Homo sapiens: one gene and its partners. The protein of the gene in region 4 interacts with the protein of the main gene of each other region in a pairwise test. Each region holds a gene or a part of one and is shown on either strand. Other genes may lie near its edges. The genes, in order: CYBC1, KCNJ6, ASGR2 and BET1.

What was found.
Region 1: the proteins of BET1 (region 4) and CYBC1 interact in binary tests that used the Homo sapiens proteins (3 or more experiments, as listed by UniProt).
Region 2: the proteins of BET1 (region 4) and KCNJ6 interact in binary tests that used the Homo sapiens proteins (3 or more experiments, as listed by UniProt).
Region 3: the proteins of BET1 (region 4) and ASGR2 interact in binary tests that used the Homo sapiens proteins (3 or more experiments, as listed by UniProt).

Annotation. Positions count from the first base shown.
Region 1 is NC_000017.11:82,441,572-82,448,014, forward strand, and holds the end of CYBC1 (cytochrome b-245 chaperone 1), read right to left. Parts: intron 6,051-6,443; coding exon 6,009-6,050; intron 5,126-6,008; coding exon 5,052-5,125; intron 4,390-5,051; coding exon 4,293-4,389; intron 3,021-4,292; coding exon 2,876-3,020; intron 2,554-2,875; coding exon 2,433-2,553; 3' UTR 1,022-2,432; downstream 1-1,021. Other genes in the region: HEXD (hexosaminidase D), read left to right, coding at 229-318, 606-1,021. UniProt on the Homo sapiens protein: Functions as a chaperone necessary for a stable expression of the CYBA and CYBB subunits of the cytochrome b-245 heterodimer. Controls the phagocyte respiratory burst and is essential for innate immunity.
Region 2 is NC_000021.9:37,906,189-37,913,964, forward strand, and holds part of KCNJ6 (G protein-activated inward rectifier potassium channel 2), read right to left. Parts: intron 1-7,776. UniProt on the Homo sapiens protein: Inward rectifier potassium channels are characterized by a greater tendency to allow potassium to flow into the cell rather than out of it.
Region 3 is NC_000017.11:7,111,520-7,119,415, forward strand, and holds the start of ASGR2 (asialoglycoprotein receptor 2), read right to left. Parts: upstream 3,304-7,896; 5' UTR 3,293-3,303; coding exon of another isoform or gene 3,096-3,292; intron 2,880-3,095; exon of another isoform or gene 2,792-2,879; coding exon of another isoform or gene 2,722-2,791; coding exon 2,598-2,721; intron 1-2,597. UniProt on the Homo sapiens protein: Mediates the endocytosis of plasma glycoproteins to which the terminal sialic acid residue on their complex carbohydrate moieties has been removed. The receptor recognizes terminal galactose and N-acetylgalactosamine units.
Region 4 is NC_000007.14:93,993,969-94,001,744, forward strand, and holds part of BET1 (BET1 homolog), read right to left. Parts: intron 5,327-7,776; coding exon 5,202-5,326; intron 2,354-5,201; coding exon 2,297-2,353; intron 418-2,296; coding exon 262-417; 3' UTR 1-261. UniProt on the Homo sapiens protein: Required for vesicular transport from the ER to the Golgi complex. Functions as a SNARE involved in the docking process of ER-derived vesicles with the cis-Golgi membrane.

The DNA of each region.
Region 1 (6,443 bases), on a different chromosome or scaffold from region 4:
GCAGGTGTGGGTGAGGGGGGTAGGGACAGGTGCTGGTGAGGGGCAGGTTCACAAGTCCCCCCACTCCCAGGCACAGGAGGAGGCAGCCTCATCCTTCACAAAGACTTTCTGGGGGACATAAGACTTAGAAATGTCAACCCCATTCTTAAACATTTTCTGTATTACTGCAAAGCCGCCCCACGGCTGCCTTGGTAGCCCGCGGCACACCCCTATGTGGATTTGCCCCAGGTATGTCACTGGCTGGTTCAGCCCCTACCACCGCCAGCGGAAGCTCATCCACCCGGTCATGGTTCAGCACATCCAGCCCGCAGCGCTCAGGTGAGGCCCTGGGCTCTTATAGGCCGTGCAGCCATGGGTTCCCTGAGAACTGCTGCTGTTGCTGACATGTCCCTCAACTAGAGAGCAGAGGGTGAGCCCCTAGTTGTAAAAGGCCCTCTGGTCTCAGATGTGCAGCTGTCACCGACTTGTTCCTCCCGACATGCCGATGAGGTAGGGTCAGTAGCCCCATTTCACAGGTGAACTGAGGCACAGGGCAGTACTGACCATGGGGCTGAGGGCAAGTCCCAAGTGTGCAGACTGTGCGTTCATGGCGCCCTCACCTGCAGCCTCCTGGCACAGTGGAGCACCCTCGTGCAGGAGCTGGAGGCTGCCCTGCAGCTGGCTTTCTACCCGGATGCCGTGGAGGAGTGGCTGGAGGAAAACGTGCACCCCAGCCTGCAGCGGCTGCAAGCTCTGCTGCAGGACCTCAGCGAGGTGTCTGCCCCCCCGCTGCCACCCACCAGCCCTGGCAGGGACGTTGCTCAGGACCCCTGAGGGGAGAGCTCATGCCAGGGGGCTCCTGCTGGAGGCTGGGGGGGCTCTGCACTGCCAAATGGCCTGGGCAATACGGGCCCACGTGGGCGTCGTGCCCTCTGGCCCAGCAGTGTCTTGCCCACACTCAGTTCCTGAGGGCCCTGGGCAGCCCCTGGGGGAGAGACTAGAAAACACAGAAGGAAGCAGCACAGGGAGACCCGCTTTGTGATCTGCATGTGTGACACTGATTCTTTGGAAATAAAGAGTGGAAGCTGCAGGTGACACGTGAAGGGTTATTTATGGTTATGATGACCCTGTCCTGCAACGAGGGACTGGCAGCCACTACTGAGGAGGAGGGTCCCATCTCTCTCCTGTCGGCTTTCACCGAGGTCACAGCCAGACGTGGGGCAAAGGTGTTCCCTGTCCTACCCAGCCATTCCTGGGCCTGCCGCCTAGGGGCTCACAGGGCCCAGGAGTCCCCAGCTCACAGGCCAGGGCATCAGGCCAGGCGCGCTCGGTGCACACCGCACCTGGGAGGACCTGGGTACACTCAGGAGACCAAGAGCACTGGCGGGTCAGGATGGTTGGCGTTCAGCTCCTACGGGGTGGGGAGAAGTCTGTAGCCGAGAGCCCAGCCCCCTCCTGCCAGGTCTTCCCAGGTTCGAGAGAGGCTGGAACTCAATTTCTGCAGAAAATCTCCCAGTTTTTCCTGTTTGGTTAGTTTTTTTACAAAGACAGGATCTTGCTGTGTTGCCCAGGCTGGTCTTGAACTCCTGGCCTCAAGCAATCCTCCCACCTCGGCCTCCGAAAGTGCTGGGATTACTGGCATGAACCACTGCGCCCGGCTGGAGCTCCCGGTTTTTAAGCACTGCACGATACTAGAAGAGCTGACCTTTTTTCTGGCCTCACAGCTTATGCTGAAGCTGAGTGTGAGGAACAGAGAGACCTTTCTGTGACGACCGCTGGGGCAGAGTGGTCTATGCGCCGAGATCCTGGCATCAGCAAGGGAGGCGGGTCCTCGGGGAGGGGCAGCTTCCACAGTGTGGCTGCAGCGTGCACAGCCAGGTAGGCCCTGGATGTTCACCCCTCACTGCCCTTGGGGAAGCACCTGACCGCTGGGGATGTCCACCAGGGAGAGGACGCTGTGTCGGGGACAACATGCAGCATCAGCACCCACAAGGGCCCGGCCTGGCCCCGCCTCTCCACTCGCCCGAGGTCTTGCTGTGGCCCAAAGCAGGAGTCCAGGGCTGGCGAGACCTCCGGCTGCAGAAAGGCAGGCCCAGGCCTCACGATGGAGAAAGTCTGGATGTCCTGGTCTGGCCTGCTGTTTCATGCAGTGTGCAAGCAGCAGCATGAGCAGGCAATAGGCCAACTCGGCTGGAGGCACCAACTGAAGCCAAGGCCACGGGTCCTGTGGGCGGTGCACGGGCTCAGGCACACCGGGAATGTGCCACGGGTCCTGTGGGCGGTGCACGGGCTCAGGCACACCGGGAATGTGCCACGGGTCCTGTGGGCGGTGCACGGGCTCAGGCACACCGGGAATGTGCCACGGGTCCTGTGGGCGGTGCACGGGCTCAGGCACACCGGGAATGTGCCATGGGTCCTGTGGGCGGTGCACGGGCTCAGGCACAGTGGGGCTGTCAGCTCTGGCTTGCAGGGTCACCGGCCTCACTGTCGCTGCTCTGAGACAGCTCTGTGGGGCTCTCAAGGCAGTGCAGCTCCAGGAAGCTGGTGATGAGCTTGGCGATGGCTTCCACATCACTGGGCGAGGCCGGCAACGGGAGGAAGGTCAGGTCACCTCGGCATAGGGCACCGTGAGACCCCACAGCAGTCTCCTCCTCGACCACCTACCTCCCGCAGACCCTGGAGCTCCCAAACTGGACCCAGCACTTCCTGGCCTGCTCCCAGCCTCCCCGTCACAGTGGGGCTGCCCCTGAGCCTGCACACGCTTCCCGTGGGCCCCTCTGTGTCCCGTCCACAAACTCATCTCCTCTCCCAGCTGCCCCATAGCTCTGGGCAGTCAGGAACGGGAGTGACCTGCTACGGCTGCAGCTCCGGCCAGATCAAAGTCCCACAGCCTTACCTGCGGTGGCCCATGACTGCACTCTGCGTGAGGGGGTGGGAGAAGCCCGTCGCAAGCCGGAGCACCACCATGTAGCCTTTCCCGAAGTACCGGACCTTCTCCTCCTCCACGCTCACATCACGGACATCATGGAGCAGGACCACCACTGCGGGGAGACGGTCAGTGGCCGAGCCATCCCCGCCCACACATGCTGCCCGGCAGTCGCACCAGCGCCACTGGCATCATCGAAAGCGACAGCCACACTTGGTTGGCAGCAAAAGCATTTGCTGTTTCCTGCCTGAGGCTGGGCCCCGGAGGACTGCTGTGGCCCTGAAGGCAGTGCAGGGTCCTCTGGGTGGGAAGGACGTGCCCGCGGTGCAGGCTGGCGGGTCACATGCACAGCCCGCTGGTTCTCCTGGGAGTGCCGACTGCGGGGACCCGCTCAGCGCGAGGCCATCTTTACACTGCACTGTTCCTCCAGGTCTCCCCAAGGTTGGCTGCTGAGCCAGGGCCACCCTGCAGTTTCCCGTGGCAACTCAGGGCAGCCACCTCTTCGGGTACTGGGGCGGTCCCAATGGCTGTCAGAAAACGGCACAGCTGCCTCCCACAGCCCAGGCCAGCCCTGCAACTGCTCTCCCCAAAGCCACAGGTGACCTGGGGCCAATGCCCTGGCCAGGTCCCTGCAGGGATCCAGGAAGCAGCCTGTCAGAAGTGCAGCATTGCGGCACTAAACCCAAGACTGCCCAGCAACTCTGGTCGCCAGAATCTGTCCCCTCTGGGGCTATGCATGGGCGGCCGGACCCCGGGGCCTCTGTCTGTCTGTGCGGCAGCATCTACAGGAAACTGGTACTGACCACAGCTGGGCCAGTGCCCAGGCTCAAGGGTGGGGAGTTCCTCGGACCATCCAGCCCCTACTGCAGGCCCAGTAGAACCCACAGGAAAGCTGGAGCAGCGCCAAGGCCCGCAAGAAGCCAGGTGGCCCCACTCCAGAACGCCCACGGGCTGCCATGGCTCTCCCTGCCCCGTCCTGTGACCTGCCGCTGGGGCCAGACTGCACCTGCGGACAAGTGGCTGCCAGGCAGACGGGAGAATGCAGCTAAACAGAGGCTGCCCGAGCCCGGGTGGGCCAGACCCCTGCTCCTCAGACCCCTGCTCTGCCAGACCCCTGCTCCTCAGACCCCTGCTCCTCCCACTCTCCCCAGGGGCCAAACCTCTAAAGAACCCAGGAGGCTCTAGGACCCTGCTGAGCAGGTGAGCAGGTGGGGCGTATCCGTGGGATCCTGCTTCCAGCGGGCAGGACACAACCCTGGTCACCAAGCAGGTGAGCTTGGACCAAAGGCACTTCCAGGCCCCCCTCTAGGCCCCGTGAGTCACCCAGACGCCCAAGTGCGCCGCCTCTGTGGCCGTGTCCCATGTCCCCACGCTCCCCACGACTCACCCTGGTCGTGGCCAGCTCTGAAAAGAGTCAGCAGCTTCTTGTAGAGGCTGAACGTCTTCAAAACAACCTTCCCTGTGCTCTTGTCGAAGATGGCTTCCTGGAAACCGACATGCACTGACCACCATGAACCTCCAGGAACGGGGGCCCCGTGGCCGCTGGGGCCTCACCCCCACCCTCACCAGGGTGGACACTCAAGAAGGGGGGCTGGGGACCCTCCCAGTCAGAACCCAAACCCCTGAAGCCACAGGTGCTGCTCTGTCAGAGCCGGATATCGGCAGCCAACCCGACTCCTGTTGGGAAATGGAGAGGTGGGCAGGTGCAGCAGGCGCTTGCTCCACCCTGCAGGCAAAACAAGTGCAGGGAGGCAGTGGAACCAGCAAACGAGGGCATGGAGGTCAGAGGGCAGCACTGGGCCAGGCTGAAAGGACTCATGAGGGGCTCCGAGGTGGGAGGGCCGGCCACGGGGAAAGCTGACTCGCATCCCATTGTGGCAACTCTGGGAAGAAAGCACTTTGGTGAAGATAGTCATGGAGAGCTTCTAAGAGAAAAATGCCTTCGGGGAATTCCTTGGCCAAGAACGGTCCCAGATGAGTGCAGGGGCCATGTCCTGATGAACGGAGACCTCCAAGCAGGGACCAACGCTTCAGGACGGGGAGGCGCTAGGCCACCCAGGGCCCTTCCTCCTCCTTTCATTCCCATTGCAAAAAACCCAGGAGCTGAACAGCCCTGGACTCTGTCCCGCACCCGAGCCGGCCTTACCTCCCAGTCCTCCAAGTTCTGCACAGCCACAAACAGGCAGCCTGTGACGTAGAAGAGCTTCCAGCCCAGGCTATCTGGAGATGGGCATAGGGCGCCAGCCTGTGAGCTCCAGGGACATGCCCACGGGAGGCCCCGCCTAGCACAGCCTCCCCCAGACGCTGGCCAGAGCCCACGCTTGCAAGGACCCCCTGGGCAGCTTCCTGTGCTGCTGACCCTGCCCTGGCCACTCAGGACCCACACGCGGCACACCCCACCCAGCTCTGACCCCCAGAGTCCACGTGAGAGAGGCAGGTGGGGCGCACAGGGCCTCTGCCCGTCTGGGCAGGCCCAGTGATTGTGGCAGGGTGGGAAGTACACCTCATCCCACAGCTGGATCTTAGATCCTCAAGAGCATCTCTCCGGGAATATTTGATGACCCAAAAACACAGAAGACTTAAGAAGTGAAATGTGGCCGGGCGCAGTGGCTCACGCCTGTAATCCCAGCACTTTGGGAGGCCGAGGCGGGCGGATCACGAGGTCAGGAGATCGAGACCATCCCGGCTAAAACGGTGAAACCCCGTCTCTACTAAAAATACAAAAAATTAGCCGGGCGTAGTGGCGGGCGCCTGTAGTCCCAGCTACTTGGGAGGCTGAGGCAGGAGAATGGCGTGAACCCGGGAGGCGGAGCTTGCAGTGAGCCGAGATCCCGCCACTGCACTCCAGCCTGGGTGACAGAGCGAGACTCCGTCTCAAAAAAAAAAAAAAAAGAAGTGAAATGTGGGCTGAGCGCTGGGCAGGATGGGCGTGCGGAAGAACAGCAGCGCATGGAGGGCGCGGTGCCCGCCAGCAATCAAGGGGCAGAGGTGCCGATCCTAAAGGCCGCCCCATGGACAGTCACAAATGACAGTTTTTCCTTCTTTTCTCTGTTTTCCAAACAGCTGAGACAGTCATGGGGGGGTGGGGCGGGGGGTGCTTTACCTCCGCTGTAGTAGGCAGCAGCCAGGCCAATCGACAAGATTCCTATGAAGAGAAAGTGACTGCCTGCCTATTGATCCCGGTAAGACCCCACCTCCCTGGTGCAGCGGGACCAGGAGCCACAGCCCCTGATGAGCAGGCCCTTCCCACTGTAGGAACAGCTGTGGTCAGGGGTTACAGACCACCAGGTTCAGAGTAGGGGAAACAGCCAGGAAGCTGGTTCAATAATGCAGTATAGCTGGGCGTAGTATCACACACTTGTAATCCCAGCTACCTGGGAGGCCGAGGAAGGAAGAGCGCTTGAGCTCAGGAGTTTGAGACCAGCCTGGGCAACATAACGAGACCTCATTACTAAAGAAAACAAAAGCAAAACACAGTATACGCTATTCACAGTATTTACTAGACACATCTGCTGTGTGAGGCTCCATAACTGACACG
Region 2 (7,776 bases), on a different chromosome or scaffold from region 4:
TAATCTTTGCAACTTAGTGTGATCATGAGTATTTTTTCTGATGGACCAAAAGCTTTTTGTTTTTGCTGTTTTTCCCCCCTAGACACTGAGTCCAGGTTAAATCTGCCTCTGCAGTGGGCATTCTGGCATTCCATTTCTAGTTGTGACCCTACCTGGCTCTTGCATGAGCCTGGACTTGGAGGTCTCTATCGTGGGAAGAAGGCTGTGAGAAGGGGCATTGTGTCTGGGTTCCTCCTTAAAGCAGATCTGAGGAAAACCTAAGCCAGTAGCTCCCACCCTTTAGAGTGCATCAGAATCCCTGGAGGGGATGGGCAGATGATTGGCCCTGTCCTCAGGGTTCCTGATCCAGTAGATCGGGGGGTGAGCTTGAGAATTTGCATTTGTAGCCAGCTCCCTGGTGATGCTGCTGCTGGTTCAGGGACACACTATGGGAACCACTGACCTCAGCTGACTTTCATCAGCTCTGATGCCTCCTTTTGTCCACAGAGACCCCCAACAGTGGCCAGTCAAGGAGACATGTGGAGTGTGGGCTTGGGCCCAACACTCCTTGAGTGCTGATTAAAAAAGAGGGCCACCTAATGCGGCCTCTCTTCCAATGACAACACATAATGTCATAGGTTCTTTATTTGCCGTCCTCTTTCTGCCCTCTCTTTATATGCTTTACTACTGTGGGCCCAGCCACCCCAGGAGGGCTAATGAAAATTTAAGAGGGTGAATATGTTTAGGGTATTGACTGGTGAGACCTTGGGAGACAGCTGAAGAGGAAGGAATCTACCCCATTCGTTGCCATTATTGAAACTAGATTTCTTGAGAGGAGGAATTATATGTTAGTAGCACTATATTTTGCACGTTAGAGATGTCTAAAAATCTGAAGTGTGCTCTGCCTAACTCGTCATGGAGTCTTGGCTCTGAAAATGTTGTAAGGTGATGCAAAAACCTCCGAAGAGAGATTTCATTCCTTGTCTTTTGACTGAAGGTAGTGTGTTGACAACAAAAAGCAAGGGTAAAGCTTTTCCATGAGCAGTGAGTCCTGTACCCTTCCTCTTAGTCATGTGATGCTGCTTAGTCATATGATTACTGCATTCCAGACCTGCTCTCATAGACACAAGGTTCGTGTAGGGACTGAGATATCATTTTTGGTTAAATGTGATTCATTTTTTTTATAGAGAAATGATGGCTCCCTCAGTCATAAAGCAATGGCCCCATAGAGTGGTGAGGTCCAGTCTGATTTGTTGACTGAGCCTGAAGGGCATCGCTTCTCTCATAGCCATTAGAAGTGCTCTGTGTTGCAGAGACTTTGAAATACATACACTCCAACCCCAGTTCCTAGCTCTCTCAGCTTCTTTATGCTTCTAGTGACAAAGAATTCAGAGCTGTGTAAATGCAGAGAAGACAGATCACATTACCTCTGCCCCGCTCTGACTACTGAAAATGCTTTCTTATATTGAACCAAAATATGTCACTTTGTAGCTTCCACTGCTGGGTCCCACTTTTATCCCTTAGAGCCCAGCAGAACAATTATAATCCTTCCTTCATCTTCAAATATCAAGATACCTGAAAACAACTATCATGCCTCCTCCCCCACATATTCTCCAGGGAAAACACTCCTAATTCTTTCATCTACTCTAATATTACATGGTTTGGACTCAGGTACTGTCCTGCCTATTCCCTTCTGCACATAGATTGTTGGATTATATCCCTTTTAAATTGAAATGATTGAATGTGGCAGTGAAATAAATCCTGTCCTCAAAAACATTCTCTTCATTAAACAGAAGTTCCACTATGAGACATTATTTACTTTGGAATGGCAAGATATTTGAAGAGGTCAAGAGTTTTCTAATCCAGTATTACTGCCCCATGGAAGGATTAACATGCATTACTGGTATTTACTGTTTCATTTTGATAATGTTTTCCCCTGCATGAATGTATGTGGCTGTGATATCTGAGTTAGGGAAATGGAAACGATGTAAGAGAACCGGAAGTATTATGGATCACCACTCTGTTTCTTCTGGTTCTTCCTCTCATAGTCTTCTCAGATATTTCTCCCTGACATTTCTCTTTTCTAGGTTGTAAGTTTGGCATTAAAGCTGTTCTTTTGCTTCTAGTGAAAAGGTATGGAACTTAGTTTCCAAGTTTTCTCCTTGAGGGAAGCAGAGGTTCTCAAACACTGCTTACAAATTACATGGTCTATTTTCAGGAAAACAATGACTATTAGTAGACTAATTCAACCTAAACTTACAGCATGTATCTAGCCTATGGACATTTAGGGGATTTAAAACAAAATGCAAATTGCTAGTCAACAGCAAGTGCCAGATATTAGAAGACAGCATCTAATTCTTCAGCATTCTTAGACACAATGTGGGTGTAATTGTCAAGATTAGAACATTGCTTTTGAGCATGGGTTGTGAAGTTGGCTTTTCTCCTTTGTGTCTACTTTAACAGATCAGCTAACAGAAATCAAACAATATGTATTTGCATCTCTTTTGTTAAGAATCATCTACACCTACTCCAAAAGTCAACATATCCCAACTAATTTATTTTAAAAAAATACACCACTAAAGAATGATTCAAGGGCACCAGGAAATATTGTCTCTACCAGGAATCTTTTCACCACTGGGACAAATCATTTCCTCTGCCTTACTCTATCCTGATTCACATTAGCTGTATTTCTTTGCTGCCAGACATTTATATCGGGCATGCATACCAAAGACTCCAGTGTGTTCACCCTACCAGTTTCCCTCCTCCTGGATATAGAGCTGAACTACAATTTGCAGCTGCTCTTGCAGTTAGGTATGACCATAGAATATGAATAGGAGTGATATACATTACTTCTAGGCCCGGATCATTAAAATCTTCTACATAATCATCTACTCTCCCTCTTTCCTTGTCTGCTAGTTGGATATCACCACTCAGCAGATCTTAGAAGCCATGTACTAAAGATGACAAAGTGTCCCTCAGCCTGGGTCCTTGTACGGCATCAACCAATTAGATTTATGTGAAAGAAATCTTCTATTTTGTTAAATTAGTGAGATTTAGATATTTTCTGTTTCAAGAACTTTCTAATTAATACAGTATACACAGGCTCATCAAGAACTGAAGTTAATGCCACATTGCAATAAATGAATAAAAACATCTGCTATTTTTAAAGTGCCTACTTTGTGCTGGACACTGCACAAAGAACTTTTTTTTTTTTTTTGGAGACAGAGTCTCCCTCTCACCCAGGCTGGAGTGCAGTGGTGTGATCTCAGCTCACTGCAACATCTGCCTCCTGGGTTCAAGCAATTCTTGTGCCTCAGCCTCCTGAGTAGCTGGGACTACAGGCATGTGCCTCCACACCTGGCTGATTTTTGTATTTTTAGTAGAGATGGGGTTTTGCCACTTTGGCCAGGCTGGTCTCAAGTCATCTCCTGGCCTCAAGGGATCCACCTGACTCGGCCTCCTAAAGTGCTGGGATTATAGGTGTAAGCCACCGCTCCTGGCCTGTGCTAAGAACTTTACTTACATTATCACATGAATCCTCATAACATCTCTGAGGTATATGTTGTTATTATTACTCTTATTGTTATTATTTTATGATAGGGAAAGCAAGGCATAAAGTTGATTAAGGTCACATAGTTAGCATAGTGGATTATATTATTGCCTCCAATTATTCTCTTCCCTCTCTGAAAGATTAGATGTCTCTACCTGTTGCTGCACGGCTTGCAGTGCTTCACTGTGGGAGAAATATACATCTCCTTCCCATTGATCATTGACACTGATGTGACATGTGAATTGTCCGGTCAATGGAATGTGAGTGGATAACTTGTGCCATGTCTGAGCAGAAATGTTAAGGGCCATTGCTTAACTTGGGAGTCTCCTTTTCCTCTGATACTGGGATAGAGTGTTCCAGACCAATTCTTGATCTTGAATTCCAGAATGAAGTCACAGGAGCAGAGCCACAGCTGACCAGCAGAGGCATAGCGCTCCAGAGAATAATACGCCTTTGTTTTGTAAGCCACTGAGATGCTGGGGTTGCTGTTACTGCCCCAAACTTGGCAAAAATGGACAGATACACCTAGACCTTGATGCAGATTCAGTTAGTAAGAAACACCGGAGCCTGTGCTCTTAATCACGGAGCAACACCGCCTACCAAGCACATTGTCAAACTTGCACAAGTTCCTGCTAGATGATACAAGAGAAATTTAAAGCATCATGAAAAAAATCAATTCTTATCCTGGATAAGAAAAAAGTAGATGTCTGTAAGTTTAAAGAGGAAACTGCCACAGGATTTAAACTTAATTTATAGATATGTCTCTCACATTGCATATAATACCTTCAGATTTAGTCCCACAGAACAGTTGTTGGCAAGGACATGGATCTTTTTAGCCACAGATGCACTTTCTGGTTCCTTTTGTAAGGATTTCATGTCGGAAACCACATCTCTGTGACTGGGAATAAGACCGGTGATACATGTTAGCCAAAATCTATTCACTAAAAGAATCACCAGTACTGTATGATTCCTGGTCCTAAGCACAGCCATACAGAAAAAATGAGAAGCATGAGACTCAAGGAGATAATGGGTTTAATCTGACTTGGATACATTTGTATAGACATAAATTAGTCACTTGGTTAAAATTTAGGGTTAACTTTACACATTGTAATTGGGAAAATTGATTGATGGCCTTACTGCATTCCATATAAAATCAGATCTGAATGACCATTTGAACATTGCACACTGCACAAAATCATTCTCTGAGGTTTTGTTTAAACAATGATTCAATTTAGTAACAAATAAATAAATGAATATTTACAACTGATTAGCAGGTATGATTAGATCAAAGCTATAGTTTAGAGAGGATACAGACTCTTCTTTTAATGATGAGACCGCTCTTTGAGGAAAATAATTTCACTATTATTTAATGTTATTAAAATGATAGCAAGTATATGTATATTCTAGTACTTTGCCAGAGGAAATTCAGAATACCATTAGAGCACTAACTGCAATTGTGATTATCTCTTCTTTTTATTGGAGCCTAATTATTTCTAGAAATAATTATTTAAAATGCACTTCAAAATGTATTTTTATCCTAAACAGCTACATTTTATTCTTCTATCTCTCCAAATACTTTCACTAAAATTAAAAAGAAAACTAACTCAACAAAAGTGTTTTGATGATTTTTCAACTTAACTGCCAATTTCCCCCTTACTGGTATTACCAAAGTTAATAATTTTGTAAAACTCCAGAGTGAATCAATTATCTTTTGGTACTTAAATGCCAATTATTGAAGATAAAATGAAGAAACAAGAAATGCCATCTCAATAAGCTATAAATCCAAATTCACTGAATTTAAACATCTTAATTCCACCAAACTTAAAGTTCTAATACAATGAACTTAGAAAAACCAACCTCACTTTGAAAAGTATTGTCAGTTTAAAGCTGGTAGCAATAAGTAACTGCCTTTTCCCCTCACTTTCTTCTTTCCTCCTACTCTGCCTATTTCTGGTCCATTTCCATTTCCATATTACTTACATATCATTTGATAAAGGAAGAACTGGTGAAAAAGAGAAGAGCTTCACCTTATCTGCCTGCCTTTCCATAAAGAGCATTTATCTTGTTTTCATTAAGGTTTACATGGTCAACATTAAACCCTTGAGAACAGCAACATTTTCTACCTGTGAAAATCAGTGAATGGGGTTAAGATTCCATAAGGGTATTTTATTTTTAATCTCCAATGAATTTTTTCTATAACTTCTTAAATAACTATTCTAATTTTTTTCCCTATAAAGTAGAGGTAGACTGAGATGATAGGGAGGAATATGAGACTGAGTTAAAAGCCCTTCTATATTCTCAAGGAAAATAGTTCATGTAAGTCCTATGTATTAAATAAAGACCTGTCTCACACAAAGGAAAACATACTAATGTTTAGGCAATATCTAGATGAGGTAACTATTGTTTAGGCAATACCTAGAAGAGGTATCAAAATGATTTTTTAAAATAGCAAAATGGAACCAAGTGAATGGGGGCGAATTTTCACAAGTTGCTCTCCTTAACAAATCTTACTTGAAATGAGTAAACCAATTATTTTGGAGTATGCTATTGACTGAAAAGGGCATAGTGACACTTTGTTAATCAATTAGCCACCTAGGAAGAAAGCAAGTCATAGTTCGGTGAATAAGCACTGAATATGTGAGCATGGAAACTACCAGAAGTAAAGATTATTGACTGAACAATTTCATATACCTAGATTATTGACACCACCCCCCTTTTTAATTTATTAGAGAAATTGAACTTTAGAACTCAGAAATACATTACTTTGTTTATCTAACAGTCTATATTCTCGTATAGCTTCATCCTCATAATGAACGTCTACTTCCCTTCTGCTGATAATGTCAGATGGAACAAGGCCAAGGAACAGCTGCGTTGTTTAATACTCCACGTGTCACTTCTTCTGTCTACTTTAGGTAGCAACCTTTTCATAAACTAAATTATGGATAAACTTGTCAATACCTATCAGGAACTGAAATGTAAGAAATAGTGTAATAACTCATCCTTTTGCTTAGGTTTGAAATAGATTGCTCTGTCTTCACTAGCAATCATTTGAAAAGACTGGAAGGTAGAAACACACTGCTTTAACCACATCCTGAGTGCTCAGCATGCAATATCTTTAGAAACAACATGTCACACTTGGAAAGCCCAGCAAGGAAAACCAGGATCATATCTTGTTTACCATTAAAAATAACAAACCAGAACCAGCTCAAGACCTCATGCACAAGTGCATCCACAAAACAGGAAAGCAGCCAGGGATATTGTTGAAGCTTTATCAACATTTCCAACCAGTTGCCAAACCTTGACTGGGCTCTGCAATTCAAAGTATACCTTGTAACACCTGGATGGCACTCTGACAGGCATTCTATTTCAAATATGACTGTCACCTTCCTGTATTATTTTTCCTCTTCATATCAGTGACAGTTGTGGTGGTGGGGGACCTACTACCAAGGATGAGAGCAGGGCAAAGACCAGCTTCTCGTAAAGTGAGAGCAGAAGGGCTTGATGGACTTACCTGTTTTCCCTGTATGAATGTTGAAATGGAACTTGAATGGTAATAAATCCTCCCCTCCTGCAGTTTCTTCCTTGTTTGTATTAAGAGAAGTGACTCCTCTCGGTTTCCTACGACTGCAACCTAGGAAATGTAGCCACCTTGCTCACACGCAGGCTTGAAGATGTGATCACTGGCTCTCATCTTGCTAACAAACTCTCTCTCCTTTTCGGAAGCTCACCAGTGTTGTTTTGATTCCTTCCAGTTCTAGACCGAGAGGAAACTATATCTCCACCCTCTTCAGTCCTAGGACCCTTAGAAAGAATTTGGCTGGGCCGGATACGGTGGCTCACGCCTGTAATCCCAGCACTCTGGGAGGCTGAGGCAGGCGGATCACAACGTCATGAGTTCGAGACCAGCCTGACCAACATGGTGAAACCCCGTCTCTACTAAAAATACAAAAATTAGCCAGGTGTTGTGGTGTGCGCCTGTAATCCCAGCTACTCAGGAGGCTGAGGTAGGAGAATCGCTTGAAACCGGGACGCAGAGGTTGCAGTGAGCCGAGATCGAGCCACTGCACTCTAGCCTGGGTGACACAGCGAGACTCCGTCTAAAAAAGAAAGAAAGAAATAACAAACTTGGTTGGCTGGCCTCTCGCTGACCAGGGTGCTTCCACAGCTCCCTTCTGCCATCTATGCCCAACAAAAAGTTAAAGAGAAGAGCGTGAGAGGGCAAGGGATGCATGCTTTTGAAAGCCAAA
Region 3 (7,896 bases), on a different chromosome or scaffold from region 4:
GTGGCAGGCGCCTGTAGTCCCAGCTACTCGGGAGGCTGAGGCAGGAGAATGGCATGAACCCGGGAGGCAGAGCTTGCAGTGAGCCAAGATCGCGCCACTGCACTCCGGCCTGGGCAACAGAGCGAGACTCCGCCTCCAAAAAAAAAAAAAAGAAAAGAAAGAAAAGAAAAAACACACTGGATGGAAATAATGGAAGATGAGAAATGCGTAAGAAAAATTTAGGGCCAGGCACTGTGGATCACATCTGTAATCCCAGCACTTTGGGAGGTCGACACGGGGGGAATCACTTGAGCCCAGGAGCTCAAGACTAGTCTGGGCAGCATGGCAAAACCCCTCTACATGGCAAAACCGTCTCTACAAAAAAAAATTTTTAATTAGCCAGGTGTGGTGCCACATGCCTATAGTCCCAGCTACCTGGGAGGCTGAAGTGGAAGGATCGCCTGAGCCCAGGAGGTGGAGGCCACAGTGAGTTGTGACAAGCTACTGCATTCCAGCCTGGGCAACAGAGTGAGATGAGAGAGAGAGAGGGGAGGGGAAGCGAGGGAAGGAAAGGAGGGGAGGGGAGGGGGAGGGGAAGGGGAAAATTTTAGTTAACTTAATGAACAGCAATAACTCTATAAAATGAAACACTGGGAGAAAAAAGAATTAAAAAATGGAAAGAGAATGAGTGAGCTGTGGGACCCTTAATACATGCATAATTGAAATCTTTAAAAGAAAAAGGGGGTAGCAGAAAAAAATCAAGTGCTGAGACAAGTGGAAGATGGGCCCCGGTGAGCAGCTGATCAGTGTCAGCTCCCATGATGACGTTCCCCCAGCCCCCACCACCCGGGCTGCTGGAGGGAAATGCGGTGACTTTGCTACATCCCTTCAGACGGTCCCTCACTGGTGTCCCTCAGCCCATTCGCGTGAGCTCACTCTCCCATTAATTTCAGAAATCCTGGCCTCTCTCCAAGCCTCCTGCTCAAACTCTAAATTCTGTCACCCTCAGAAGATTCAGCAGCATCCCGTATTCTCTCTGAGTGTTCACTATGTACCGGGTGCCGTGTGGGCACTGGAGTTGCAGAGGAGAGTGAGGCGGACAGGGCCTCTGCCTGTGGGGACACCGCCTGGTGGGAAGTCCAGCCAGCCCCCTACAGAGAGAGGAGATGCTACTGGTGTTCCTGAGTGGTCCTCGGGAGGGACCTCCTATCCCTCCTGTCCCCTGCCCTGCCCTGCCCAGCACCGGCCCTCCCTCGGTTGGCCAGCCTCAGGAATGAGGAGTCCCTCATTCCAGCCCAGCTAACCAATCCCCTTCCTAAGCTCCAAGCCCCTGCTCCTCCTGCCTCCATGGAACCCGGCTCCACCACCAGCACCCACACACCTGACACTCCTCCATTCCTGGCTCTTGCCCTTCTGCCTAGCACTGCTCAGATCTCTCTCACCTTAAAATCTTTTCCCACCAGCCTGGGCAACATAGCAAGACCCCATTTCTCTAAAAAATTTTTTTTAATTTGCCAGGCACAGTGGTGCACACCTGTAAGTCCTAACTACTTGGGAGGCTGAGGTGGGAGGATGGCTTGAGCCCAGGAGTTCGAGGTTGCAGTGAGCTATGATCCTGCCACTACACTCCTGTCTCTAAAAAAAAAATGTCCAAGATACTTAGGTCCTTCAGTCAAGATTTATTACAGAAGGATCCAGGGAAGGGTCTTGGGAGATGAGAGGAGCAGGGATCTTCCAGGATCTCTCTGTGCTCACGTCCCCCACCCATCCCAACTCACCCCACCTCTACACACACACACACACACACATACAATCACATACACACACTAACACACACACTCACGCAACACACTCACACACACAACATACATAACACACTCACAACATACACACACAACACACACACTCGCACAACATACACACACGCACAACATACACAACACTCACACAACACACAAACATACATACACTCACACAATACACACACACAACACACACACAACATACACAACGTACACACACACAACATACACACACTCATACACAACATACATACACACAACATACACACAACATACACACACTCACATACACAACATACACTCGCACAACATACACACATGCACAAGATACACACACAACACACAACATACACTCACACACAAGATACACACAACATATACTCACACAACATACACACACAACACACTCTCACACACAACATACCCTCTCACATACACGACATACACACACACAACATATGCACGCTCTCGCGCACATATACACACACACAACATTCACTCACACACACACACAGAGTCCCAGCTGAATCTGCATTCCTCATATGCACATACGTGCACACGCACATACGAGGCACATGTGTTCTTGGGTTGGGAGGAGAAGGGCAGGCAGTTATCTTCCAGATCTCCCCACACCTCTGGCACATGCCTTTCCTGGGGTCCTGGGGTAGACAGGAAGGTGAGGTGAGGGAACAAGCGGGGGTGTCGGGCCCTCCTCAGTCCCTGTTCACAGAGTGGGTGCGGCAGAGACCTCAAAGGGACAGAGCAATCATGAGCTGAGACAGAGGGGGAGCAAAGCCGCAGAAACTGCACACTTGCCTTTCAAAAATGGATTTCCTCTCCTGGGATTCAGCCTGCGAGTGCCTGGCCCCTCACCTTGATGGAAAGGATGGTCATTTTCCTCCGAGCTCAGCTGCTGGATATCTTGAAAGTCCTTGGCCATGATGGGGCCCGGGCTGGAGCTGGAGCTGGAGCTGGGCTGGGCTGGGCTGAGGTTGCTCTGAGGGCTGGGGCTGGGGCAGAGGTGCAGATTCACGTGGAGGTTGATGGTGGGATGGAACGCAGGGTCGGAGGGGTTCGGGGTGGTGGCCTGGGTAGGATCTGAGGTTGGCAGGGCGTTTGGGATGAGGTTTGAAATCCCGCTGGGTCCTTTCCCTTCTCAGGAGACCGCTTGGGCCTTGACCTGGCCAGGAGACCCCTCCCCACGCTCATGGACCCGACCACCCACAGCTTCCCATGGGGTCCTCCCCATCCCTGAACCAAGGCCTCCTTGTTCCCAAGCATCCTCGTCCCAGTTGCCTCCCCAGCCTCAGTTACCTGTGAAAGGTGTGGAGAGCGGACACCTGGCTCCCGCAGGCAACCCTGGCCTTGGCCAAGGAGGGGTTAAAGCCAGGAGAACTGGGGCAGGTGGAGCTCACAGGGGAGAGGAGAGTGGAGGAGGGGCTGGTCCGGGCAAGGCCTGCACTGGAGGGTCTGAGTGTCCAAGCTCTAACCTGGCACCTCCTGGCCTGGGACTTTGGACAGTAAACAGAAGAGGAAACAGAGCTGTAACTCATTTGTGGGGTGGGGGCAGGGGACGGGGCTATCTCTGTTCTTATTCCCAGAGAGGGGGGTCCCCTGGGCTGCGCTCAACTCCACACGCCACTCACCCCACTCATTGCACCATTTGGAAGGGGTGCCAGGCCAGGAGGGGCTGGGGTGCAGTTTGCCGTTTCCCTCTCTCCCTCCCCCTCTCACTTCCTGCCTCCGAATTTACCAGAACTGTGGGTGTCTCCAAATATCCCTGACCAGGATCACAGCGACCAGTTCTCTACTCTTGCCCAATCCGGCATCTGAACCACAGACCCCAGCTTCCTGTGGGCTCGGCCACCAGACTCTCAGCTCTGGCCCAACTCGCTTCACTCTCCTGGAGAGTAAAGCCTCTCAAATCCAGAAGCTTCAGCAGGAGGAGGAAGGGGCTTTGCAGAAAAACAGCTCTCCTCGCAGGAGGAATCCAACCTCAGAGAGCCCCGTCCGGCCCAGACCCTGCCCCAGCCCAGGCAACACAAACACTGTCCTCAGGCCCAGCCACTGCCCTAAATTCTCCAAGGTGTTTCTTCATTTATCACAGCACAACACCCCCACGAGGCAGGACTTCTGTTACTCCCATTTCACAGGGTTCGGAAGCGGAGCCTCGGAGAGATGAGGCAACTTGCTCTAGGTGGTGGCCCAGGTGAGTAGAGAAACTGGCAAAGCAAAATGGAGTAAAGAGGGGAAAATAACATCATAACAAAAGGTCTGGCCGGGCACGGTGGCTCACGCCTGTAATCCCAGCATTTTGGGAAGCCGACGTGGGTGGATCACCTGAGGTCAGGAGTTCGAGACCAGCCTGGCCAACATGGTGAAACTCTGTCTCTACTAAAATACAAAAATTAGCCGGGCGTGGTGGCAGGGGCCTGTAATCCCAGCTACTCAGGACGCTGAGGCAGGAGAATCGATTGAACCTGGGAGGCGGAGGTTGCATTAGCCAAGATTGCGCCATTGCACTCCAGCCTGGGCAACAAGAGAGAAACTCCATCTCAAAGAAAAAAAAAAGAAAGAAAGAAAAAGAAAAGAAAAGGTCTTCATGGTCCTACGAGGAAGACTGGCTTCCATGAAGCAAGGAACGTGGCTGACTGTCTACACTTGCGCTAACAATAGCTCGGGAAAGAAAACACAGTTTTTGTGCATGATTTTCTGACCCTCACCAAACTTGGGCGGATGGCTACGGGCAGGGTTTCTTATAAAGCTGCTCGTTTCCCCGGGTGCCGAAAAGGAATTCAAACAGAGGCCTTTTCTGTTCTTGTAACTTGCTGACCCACATGGGAAGTAGCCACCCCCCCAGTACCCTGACATTCCCACCCAGCCACCAGGCAGCAGCAGCCGCTGGGCTCTCTGACTGCAGCCCACAGCGAGAGACGAATTTCATGCTGTGATCCAGAACATACACACAAGCACCCGCACACACAGGTGCATTTGTATGTGTTACTTTCTCCTGGATCCCCAGTGCCTGCCACACAGTAGCTGCTCAACAAGTATCTACTGAGTGAGTGAGTGAATAGAATAATGCGTTTGGAAATACACGGTTGACACTAAAGTTTGATGGGACAATGCTCACCTTACTACGTGCCTTCTGTTGAGTTTCCCAGTCCATTAATGGGTCACAACTCAAAGTCTGAACAACACTGCTGTGAAGCCCCCATCTTAAGGGGCATGTGGATTTAGTCCTGAGATACAGGTAAGAGCTTCACAGATGGATTGTCTACTGCATGTCAAGCTTTGCCAACTGCCAACCAGGGATGGGGCCATCCTCATTGGCCACCCCTTTGACTGAACCAATTCCACGTTTCAGGGCTTGTCACTTACACCCCCACTCACGGCACTACAGGGAGAGAAGGGACAGAGAAAGCCAGACTCATCTGCGTCCTTCTCTTTCTCCCTATTTGAAAATCATTTTAACTTAGAAGTTAACATGTACTTGGACTATTTCTGAAGTTTCCATATTGTTGGAGGTTTTCTGTTTTGGGTTATGGAATCCTATTTTCTTTGATTGATTTTTTTTTTTTTTTTTTTTGAGACAGAGTTTCACTCTTGTCACCCAGGCTGGAATGCAATGGCGCGATCTCAGCTCACTGCAACCTCCACCTCCCGGGTTCAAGTGATTCTCCTGCCTCAGCCTCCTGAGTAGCTGGGATTACAGGCATGCACCACCACGCCCGGCTAATTATTTGTATTTTCACCATGTTGGCCAGGCTGGTCTTGAACTCCTGACCTCAGGTGATCCGCCCATCTCAAACTCCCAAAGTGCTGGGATTATAGGCGTGAGCCATCGCGCCCGGCCTTATTTGGTTGATTTTGATTTGGGGTTTATTTGTACCTCAGACACAAAGGTTAGATTGGTCATATTCCTTACTTCATGACACTAGGTCTTCCTCAGAGGTCTGAGCTAAACCTTTGTCCTGTTTCGTTCTTCCCTAGCTCCCATCCTGTTTCCCCTCACTAATTCTATACTCTCTACTCTCTATAGGCAGCCAGAAGTCTGAGTGCCCTGACAGTCCCCACAGATGGTGCCCATCAATTTCTCCCCTCACCACATGTGCAAGTCACACCACTCAGCCAGGGGTAGAGTCTGTTTCCCCTCCCCTTGAGTCTGGGCTGGCCCTGTGACTTGCCTTGACCAACAGAAAGCACTAGAAATGACACTCTGCCAGTTCTGGGCCTGGACCTCAAGAAACCTGGTAGCTTCAGTTTTCAATCTTGGAAGTCAGTCACCATGCTATGAGGAAGTCCAACTATCCTGCCAGAGAGAGTCCTGGGGGATAAGACAGCACATGGAGAGAGAAAGAGGCCACACAGAGGTGCACTGAGGCCCCAGACATGTGAGCAAAGTCTTCTGGGAGTTTCCAGGGCAGCCCAGTCACCAGCTGATTGTATCCAAGTGTTTCACTCCAACCAATACCCCGTGGACCGCCCAGCCTAGCCCTGCCCAAATTTCTGACCCAGAGAATCTTAAGAAAAAACAGTTGGTTTAAGCCACTGGAGCTTTGGGGTGGTTTATTATGCATCGGTAGATAGCTGAAACAATATATATTACTAAATATGTAGGTACCCTTATAAAATATGTGATGGGGTTTGCATGTCTATCTGTTCTGTATTTACATACACAGAACTTTCATATATCTCATTTGTTTCTGATCTTTTTCACTCAACAAGAAATTTTTTAGAGCTATTTGTATTGCTATTTGTTACAATGGATTGTTACATTGCTATTTGTTTATCTGGTTTGTTGCTATGAACTGCTGCACAGTATTCAATGGTGTGTATCCATCACAGTTTATTTCCCCTAATAATGAACTCAGGTTGTTGCCAACAACTATCACAATTAACATGACGACTGATGTCCTCATCGTGTTCCCATGTGGACCTAGGTGAGAATTTCTCTTGAAACTGTATCCAGGCCAGGTATGGTGGCTCAGGCCTGTAATCCCAACACCTTGGGAAGCTGGAGTTGGGAGGATCACTTGAGGCCAGGAGTTCAAGGCTGCAGTGAACTATGATCGCACCACAGCATTCCAGCCTGGGCAACAGCAAGACCCTTTCTCAAAAAAAAAAAAAAAAAAAAAAAAGGAATGAAAGAAAAGAAAAGAGAAACGAAGGAAAGGAGGGAGGAAGGAAGGAAGGAAGGAAGGAAGGAAGGAAGGAAGGAAGGAAGGAAGGAAGGAAGGAAGGAAACTATATCCCCGAATGGTATTGCTCATTCGCAGAGTATTGCCATACCTAATTCCACTCAGGACTGCCAGACTGTTTTCCAGAATGGCTCTGCCAGTTCACACTCCCACCAGCAGTATACGAGGGTTCTCTTTTTGGCTTTGTCGCTTGATATTATTAACATCGCAATTGTTGCCAAGCTGATGCCATATCCTTGTTCTTTTATTTTGCATTTCTGGCTAACAGTGGGTTTGAACATTTCTTCATCGATTTATTAATCATTTGGGTTTCCTCCTGCATGAATTGCCTTTTCATATCCTTTACCAGTTTTTCTATTGGCTTTCCTGAATTCACTTTGTTGATAAGCCAGAATTTCCTGTATGTTCTACTTGTTCAGAAAACGAGACCTTTTGAAAGTTAAAAAATATATACATGTTGTTAACTCCAGAAAAATTAATAGAAGCTCTGAAACATAAAATTTAGAAAATCTTCCAGGAAAAAAAAAAGACATAGGTTTTTTTTTTTTAAATGATAAAAGTTAAATTGGGAGAAATTATTTTTTCTCTGGTCTCATGCTACTGAATATATTTCCCACTAGGGAAACTAGACAATCTCCAGACTCCCTTTCTCTCTTTTTTTTCTTTCTTTCTTTTTTTTTTTGAGACAGAGTTTCCTTCTTGTTGCCCAGGCTAGAGTGCGGTGGCCGCGATCTCGGCTCACTGCAACCTCCGCCTCCCGGGTTCAAGTGATTCTTCTGCCTCAGCCGCCTGAGTAGCTGGGATTACAGGCACTCACCACCACACCCAGCTAATTTTTGTATTTTTAGCAGAGATGGGGTTTCACCATGTTGGCCAGGCTCGTCTCGAACTCCTGACCTCAAGTGATCCGCACG
Region 4 (7,776 bases):
AATAGAAAAACAAACTGGAAATTAGTGGAGCCACACCCTCTCACTACCCCTGAAAATAGGGGCTAAAATGAGTCATTAAGAAACAGTATTCAAAGACCACTGTATTAACTAATGTGATTTATAAAATAAGCAAAATTCAGCAATTTTCAATGGAAAATGCCACAGTATTTGAACACTAGGAATGTTTTGATGCTGATTTTTATCAAAGTGGTACTGCAAGCCATTAAGTTGGAACAAATTCCAAATTCACAATTACATGCATCACCTCAGTTTAATAATCCAATAAATGATAAAAAAGACAAATAAAGAAAACAGCATCATATAGCACAGCAGCTTTGTTTGGCTCCCTCTGGATAAAATCTTCAGTTTGCCCATAGTTTTACCTAGAAATCCAGTTGTGGAATCAAATTGTGAATCCTATCAGAGATAAAGGCAAATAAAATATCACAGTTAGATTCTAAGAGTCTACATATGCATATCCAAGTAATTGAATAACTGTTACCATAGTACATTTGTAATGACAGTTTTGTGTTTAATCAATTCAGGAGCCTGTTGATAACCTTGGATAATCAGCCTGATTTCTCCATGCAAAATACAGTAATACTCTCAGCGAATAAAAAGCTCTTTCATTGTCCAATAAACACTTCTTTCAGCTCCACAGAGTAATTCAACAACTCAAAACTATTTAGGTGTTATTCCAATTATGTGGATAAAAAAAATTAACAATAAATGTAAGTACTTTGTGCATTATCACACAGATTTTTTTCCCCACTTTTTGTTGTGCCATTGCTCTCCAAGGTCAAATGGTTGACTGCTACCCAAGTAGAGGATTTCATCCAAAATGTAATACGGTTAGCAGTTAAATGTACTTTTATTTACTTATTTATTTATTTAGAGACGGAGTCTCGCTCGTTGCCCAGGCTGGAGTGCAGTGGTGCAATCTCAGCTCACTGCAATCTCTGCCTCCCAGGTTCAAGTGATTCTCCTGCCTCAGCCTCCCAAGTAGCTGGGACTACAGGCGCACGCCACCACGCCCAGCTAATTTTTTTGTATTTTTAGTAGAGATGGGGTTTCACCATGTTGGCCAGGGTGGTCTTGAACTACTGACCTCAGGTAATCCGCCCACCTCATCCTCCCAAAATGTTGGGAGTATAGGCGTGAGCTACCATGCTAGGCCTTGGACCTTTACTTTTAATATCCTTTTGTTTAGACAGCTGACTTTGAAGTAGAGTCTATTAAGTTAAGAGAATATCATATAGAGGTAGTAAAATGTGATAAGGACTATAAATATGGATGGGGAAAAACTAACGTATTAAAACATAGCTGGAAAATCCTAAAGATGAGAGAGGCTTAGGTAGGGACTAGAAATATTACACATACTTTCATAGAAATTATAATATCCTGAGATGTAAAAGCCCTGGCATAATAATAAATATCCTTTGTATAGCTCAGTGTCTATGTGGCTCATATACTTTAGATCTATGGATCTTCACCATGGTTATGCATCAGAATCACCGGAGATGCTTTTTCATGGTTATGCATCAGAATCACCAGAGATGCTTTTTTCAAAATATTTACATCTAGATCCCTCCTCACGAAATTCTAAATCAGTATATTTAAAGACAGAATCAGGCATATACATTTTTAAAGAGGTCCCTAGCTTATTATAGCGCACAAGCTTAGCAAGAACATTGCTTTTGATGCCAAATTCATTTTTGAATAGCACAATTTTAAAAGCACATGGAACCAGAGAAGGTTCAGAGAAGCTTGACATTCAAGATAAACGTTAACAAATGGAAGGGGACTCTAACAAGAAAAGGTATATGTTGTTAGAGAGAAAAGGCTCTGGGCTGTTCAAATGTATGAGCACTTTTTTCATAAGTGATCCTTAGGAAATCAAGCAAAAGAGTAAGTATCCATTAAGTGAACGACATTTAGTTGGTTGGATATCAAGTGCCTTTTGATTGCTTGGTTAATAAATTACTAGTAGTCTCTACTATTGAGACTTCTAAGACTACTCAAAATAGTCATTTGTCTTGTTTTTAACAATCATTCTAAAAACAGGATTAAAGATATATTGGCTTCCACTTGTTCCTCCCACTTACATGCGTAAGACGAGATGAAAAATGCAAAAGCATGGCAAAATAAACCTTATAGTTATTCCAAACACATTAGATACAAATGGACGGGAATCAAGGACTTACGATCTCTGTATTTCAAAATGAATAAAAGTTGAAATTCTATTATTTGCGAATATTAGATCAAATTTCTTAAAGTTAAAATCATAACCACTTACCATTTCAGCTAATAATTTATTCTGGGTTTTAACTTCATGGCCTATTTCAATGGAAAGCTATAAAGAAGAAGGTATACACAGGATTACTCACATAAAAGTATTCAAGTGTTATAAAGTAAAAATAATGTCATTCTAAGCATACACATTTTCTGAAATGAAACGGTCTTCTAGACACATAAACTCTCTTTTTCTGATACTTTTTCTACCAAGATCAATAAAAAATAAATTTGGAATTTCTACTCCTCCCAATTATGGACATTTCTTCTTTCCTCTTTATTTTAATTTCATCTTAATATTCAATTCCATCTTTTAATTTGGTATGTACTACTTCTCTCTGATTCTCTTAACCTTGTATGCTTTTATATCTTTATTATATTCCTACAAAAGCTACAAATTCCTACAAATATCTGTATATTTCCTTCTTACATTTTATTTATTATATTTTATAAATTATATATATATATTTTAACTTATTTTAGGTTTGGGGGTACAGGTGAAGGTTTGTTATACAGTTAAACTCATGTCACATGGATTTGTTGTACGGATTATTTCGTCAACCAAGAATTAAGCCTAGTACCCAACCTTATTACATTTTGAAAGATCTAGAAGTACCCATACAACCAATTCAAATCTAGACAGAAGTATTTAATATTTTCCTAATGAAATGTTACATTACTTTAAATATGTCTAAACTGATTTTTCCTTAGTTTAAAGGTTTTTGCTTTAAAATATGATAATAAATTGAAAAAAATAAATATTAGTGTTACTTACTTCCTGAAGCTCTGAAGAAAAGAGCCATAGCTTACAAAATACAATACTATAGCTAATTATGACAACTATTCAAACCAAAATCTATCTAATACTTTATAGGACAGATTCATCAAAGGCTTCACTTCCAAGATATTTAAATAAATAGAATCATCTACTGAAAATCTTGGTAAATCACTGCAAATATTGTTCTTCATCTGTGTGAAAGCACATGGGATAATACTGATACAAAACCATACTAGAATTCTATAGATCAGAACATGAGCTTTCCTCCCAGATTTAACAACTCAGAGATAATAAAGTAACTATAAAGCTAGACTGCCCACATTACTCAACTTCTATCACTGTCATTCATGCCAAGGAAAAATATTTCCAGGACATCACAACTTTCTTCTAACAAGTAATCTAAATTATCTACATTGGGGGGGTTTTTAAAGGCATTTAATTCTTAAGTCCTTCCAAGTGTTGTATTTTTAAAATTAACATTATACAATATTACTTAGTTCATAAATCAACTTTAGTTTAATATGACTTTGAAAACAATCCTGTTTCAAAATCTAAAGGTCTCCAGACTGAATGTAATTCGATTTTCCAAAGACTATATTGAAATACCAATTAAGTTTTATCAACATGGGCTTCTACTGAATGCTTTATAAGTGAACGTCATGTTCATTATAATGCAGTATCAATCACATATATTATTAAAATCATCTTCGTGTAATTCTTTGGTTCAATACAAATTTACTCAACACCATTGATAAGGAATTATGCTAAGTGCTATATAGAATATAAAGTAAGTACAATAGAAAACCTGCATTCTGGTAAATTCCTTTTACATACAAATAATGCCAATGCAAATCACTATGAATAAGTGCTACAGAAATGGCACAAATGGTCTTATGTTCATAAGAAGAAAAGTTACTTTTGGATGTGGTAATCAGGTAAAAGTTTGGAGGGAGGGGGTGCAATGAAGTGGGGCGGATGTGGATAAGCAGCACTTCAGTTGATCTAAGAAGGAAGTGGAGGCTTAAGGCAAAGGGATAGTGTGATATGGGGGTGGGAAAGTGACAGCATACAGAGGACACAAAGTGTAATTTGTCTAGCAGGAAGCACATACAGATTCTGGAAGTGTGAGAGATAAGATCTCAAAAGCTAAGGCCAATTTTTGAAAGATCTATCTGATTTAATCAAGCTACGAAGCATGAACTTTATTAAATCATGGAAGGACGCTGAAGACTTCTGGGAGTGCAGGATGCAAGTTTTAAAATATTCTAAACGAGGACTGTGGCAATGATTATATAGCTCAGATCATAATGTGCAAAAAAACAGGAACAGATAGGTTAAGATGTTCTTCCAATAGTTCAACTAAGAAAACCAGGGGATAGGCCAGGTGCGGTGGCTCACACCTATAATCCCAGCACTTTGGGAGGCCAAGGCGGGCGGATCACCTGAGATAAAGAGTTCAAGACCAGCCTGGCCAACATGGTAAAACCCTGTCTCTGCTAAAAATACAAAAATTAGCCGGGTGTGGTGGCGGGCACCTGCAATCGCAGCTATTTGGGAGGCTGAGACAGGGGGATTGCTTTAACCTAGGAGGCAGAGGTTGCAGTGAGCCAAAACTGCACCATTGCACTCCAGCCTGGGCAACAAGAGCAAAACTCCATCTCAAAAAAAAAGAAAAGAAAAGAAAACCAGGGGATAGTATTAGAAATAGAAAGGCAAAGATAGAAACATCAGAAAGACAGTGTAAGACTCAGTGACTGAAATGAAGTACAAAGGTAGAAATAAGAAAGACCAAGATTTATAGCTTAGAAGGCTAGATTAAAAAAAGCAGAAGAGCTACTTGGGGGTGGAAGATGGACAGCTCTGTTTGAGACATTACAGCAGACAGCATACAGTATACAAAAAAGAGCTGGAGATTTTTCTTAAGTATTAAAAAAAATCTATCTTTTGATGTGCCACATTTTTTAACTTACTCAAAGCACAGTCTAAATTTTGAGTGTACTTTGACCTCACAAAACCACAGTATCTGAGTAAATGAATTCCTTAGGATGACGTCAATAAGAATATATAGTTTATAATTATATGTATAGAAATATATGAATTAAAACACATATAATATTTGTTATATACTTACAGATTTTATAGCAGTTACTTTGCTTCTCAGACTTTCAGTGAGCCTCTCATTTTCTTCTTCACAGGCACTATACCCACTATTAGCATAGCCATAGTTCCCATAGTTGCCAGGAGGTACTCCTTCACCTGCAAGGATCAGAGTCACAAAGGTGGTTCTAGAGAAGCCACTTTTGAAACACTGTTAGTTAGGAAAGAACTGAAAAAGACCCCTGGAGGGCCTTGCAAACCACATATGTCTCTAATATTCATACTCCAAATGAATTTAAAAAATAAATAACCAAACAGAGATCAGACCAATTCTTTCCATTACTCTCTGTTAACCAAAGAATATTCAGTTCAGTTCATTTTGATACACATTTCTGGATTGCTTATTGATTGTCCAGAAGATACAAAAATAGGTACTAATACACAAGAATATTCAGGATACATTCCCTGCTCAAGAGAAACATATATTTTAATGAAAGTTCTAAAAGCAGTAACATCATCTACCCATTGAAAAAGCGTGGCTGTGAAGAGGAAGGGAAAAGTGGTTAATACAGAAGGACGGGAGCTCATAGCGGCGAGGGTTCTTTACTGGCATCTCTTTCTCTTAAATAGACAGTTGGACAGGAAAGAGCCAAAGCAGGGAGGGGGCAAACTGAAGCTCTAGGAAAGAGACACAATAACTTATGCAGAATGCTAGCTGAGAGTCAAGAGGGAGATTCATTTATTCTTCAACATATATTTGAAGAATTACCATGTATCAGATCCACTGTTCTTTCTAGGTGCTACTTTTATGGAACTCTAAGGGATAAGAATGTACACCTCCCTGCCTAATATAGTACTTCATAGTCATCAGGCTATCAAACAACAGATGGAGTGGGCCTTAGTGAATACATATATAAATATGTTGGGCGATTAACAGGAAACGGCATAGTTCAGGGTGTTAGTTAACTATACTTTTTTTTTTTTTTTGAGGTGGAGTCTCGCTCTGTCGCCCAAGCTGGAGTGCAGTGGCGCGATCTCGGCTCACTGCAAGCTCCGCCTCCCAGGTTCAGGCCATTCTCCTGCCTCAGCCTCCCGAGCAGCTGGGACTACAGGTGCCCGCCATCACACCTGGCTAATTTTTTTTTTTTTTGTATTTTTTAGCAGAGACAGGGTTTCACCCTGTTAGCCAGGATGGTCTCGATCTCCTGACCTCATGATCCATCCGCCTCGGCCCCCCAAAGTGCTGGGATTACAGGCGTGAACTTTTTTTTAACATAATTGTTGCCATCAATTTTCTCAGTAAAGGGAGAAAACGGGCTATCTGCTGAAGAATGGGTGATCATTCAGAATATACAGTAAGGAGAATGATGGAGGAAAGGGACCGGGACTGCACAGGATTACTAAAGATAAAACAAACTTGTTTGAGGCAATATACTACGGTGGCTTCAATCGTCCCAGGTGTGTGGTTTTTTTCTGCAGAAGAGTTCATCGGCCTGAGTTAGTCCAGGAGAAGGTGGATGGTTGGACTAATCTATAGTTGGAAGCTTATAATATTGAGGTTGCAGAAAAACGGAGCCCCAAGAGGTTGAGACTGCTTGCCAAAAGAGCGGTTGAAGATCTGGATTATGGGGATTAGATTGGACAGATATTAAAGCAGATTCAACAGTGACTTGAGAATGTGGGGAAAGGAATGATATCAAAACTAGAAGTCTCAGAGCCTGCTGCACACAGTTGCTTGCACCTATAATCCCAGCTACTTGGGAAGCTGAGGGAGGCAGGATCACTTGAGGCCAGGAATTTGAGACCAGCCTGGGCAACACAGCAAGACCTCATCTATTAAAAACAAACAAAACTAGAAGTCTCCATATGCTCAATGAGCAGATGCAGCAGCAGTGACAGGAGGTAACAGCACTGATCACTGAAGGACAGTCAAGGTGTGAATAGGAACTTCTTTCAAGGCACAATAGAAATTTCATTTTCCCTATGAAGCAAAACTCTCACTGATTTCTTACAGCTCTGATTGTATGTAACACTAATATTGCACTCTGTACAGTACTATAAGGGAAGAGAATAAGTTTGTTTGACTCAACACTGTATGTCCCCCCATAAACCTACAAACACATACACACTGTAAGGCACACTCAATGAATACATGATGTGAACTAATTAATGAAAAGAATCTGAGTTCACTGTTATTGAACTTTGAATGTGCATACCTTTGTCCAGAATGGAATCATATGCTTCTCTGAAGGCAAAGACAGTATCTCATGCTTCCATATCCTCCCTGTACCTAATGAGTACTTTATATGCAGCAGATACCTATGCAATCTCCACCACCACAAAAACCACAACAAAATATTGAAGAAGTATTTTCCAAACAGAAGAGAGTTGTACTATCTGAATTTTGCTGCTGACACACTATCCATGACACACTATCCATGAAGCTCTCCACATGTTTTATTATAAAAGAACTCAAGGAGTGGGCATATTTTTCCGCTCAGTCAAATATTAAAATCACCATTTAAAAATGCATTCTTACTCTGTTAACCAATGATACTCTGTGCAAACTGTAGTTTAATAAGGGCCAAGATACTTAAAGAAAGAATGTC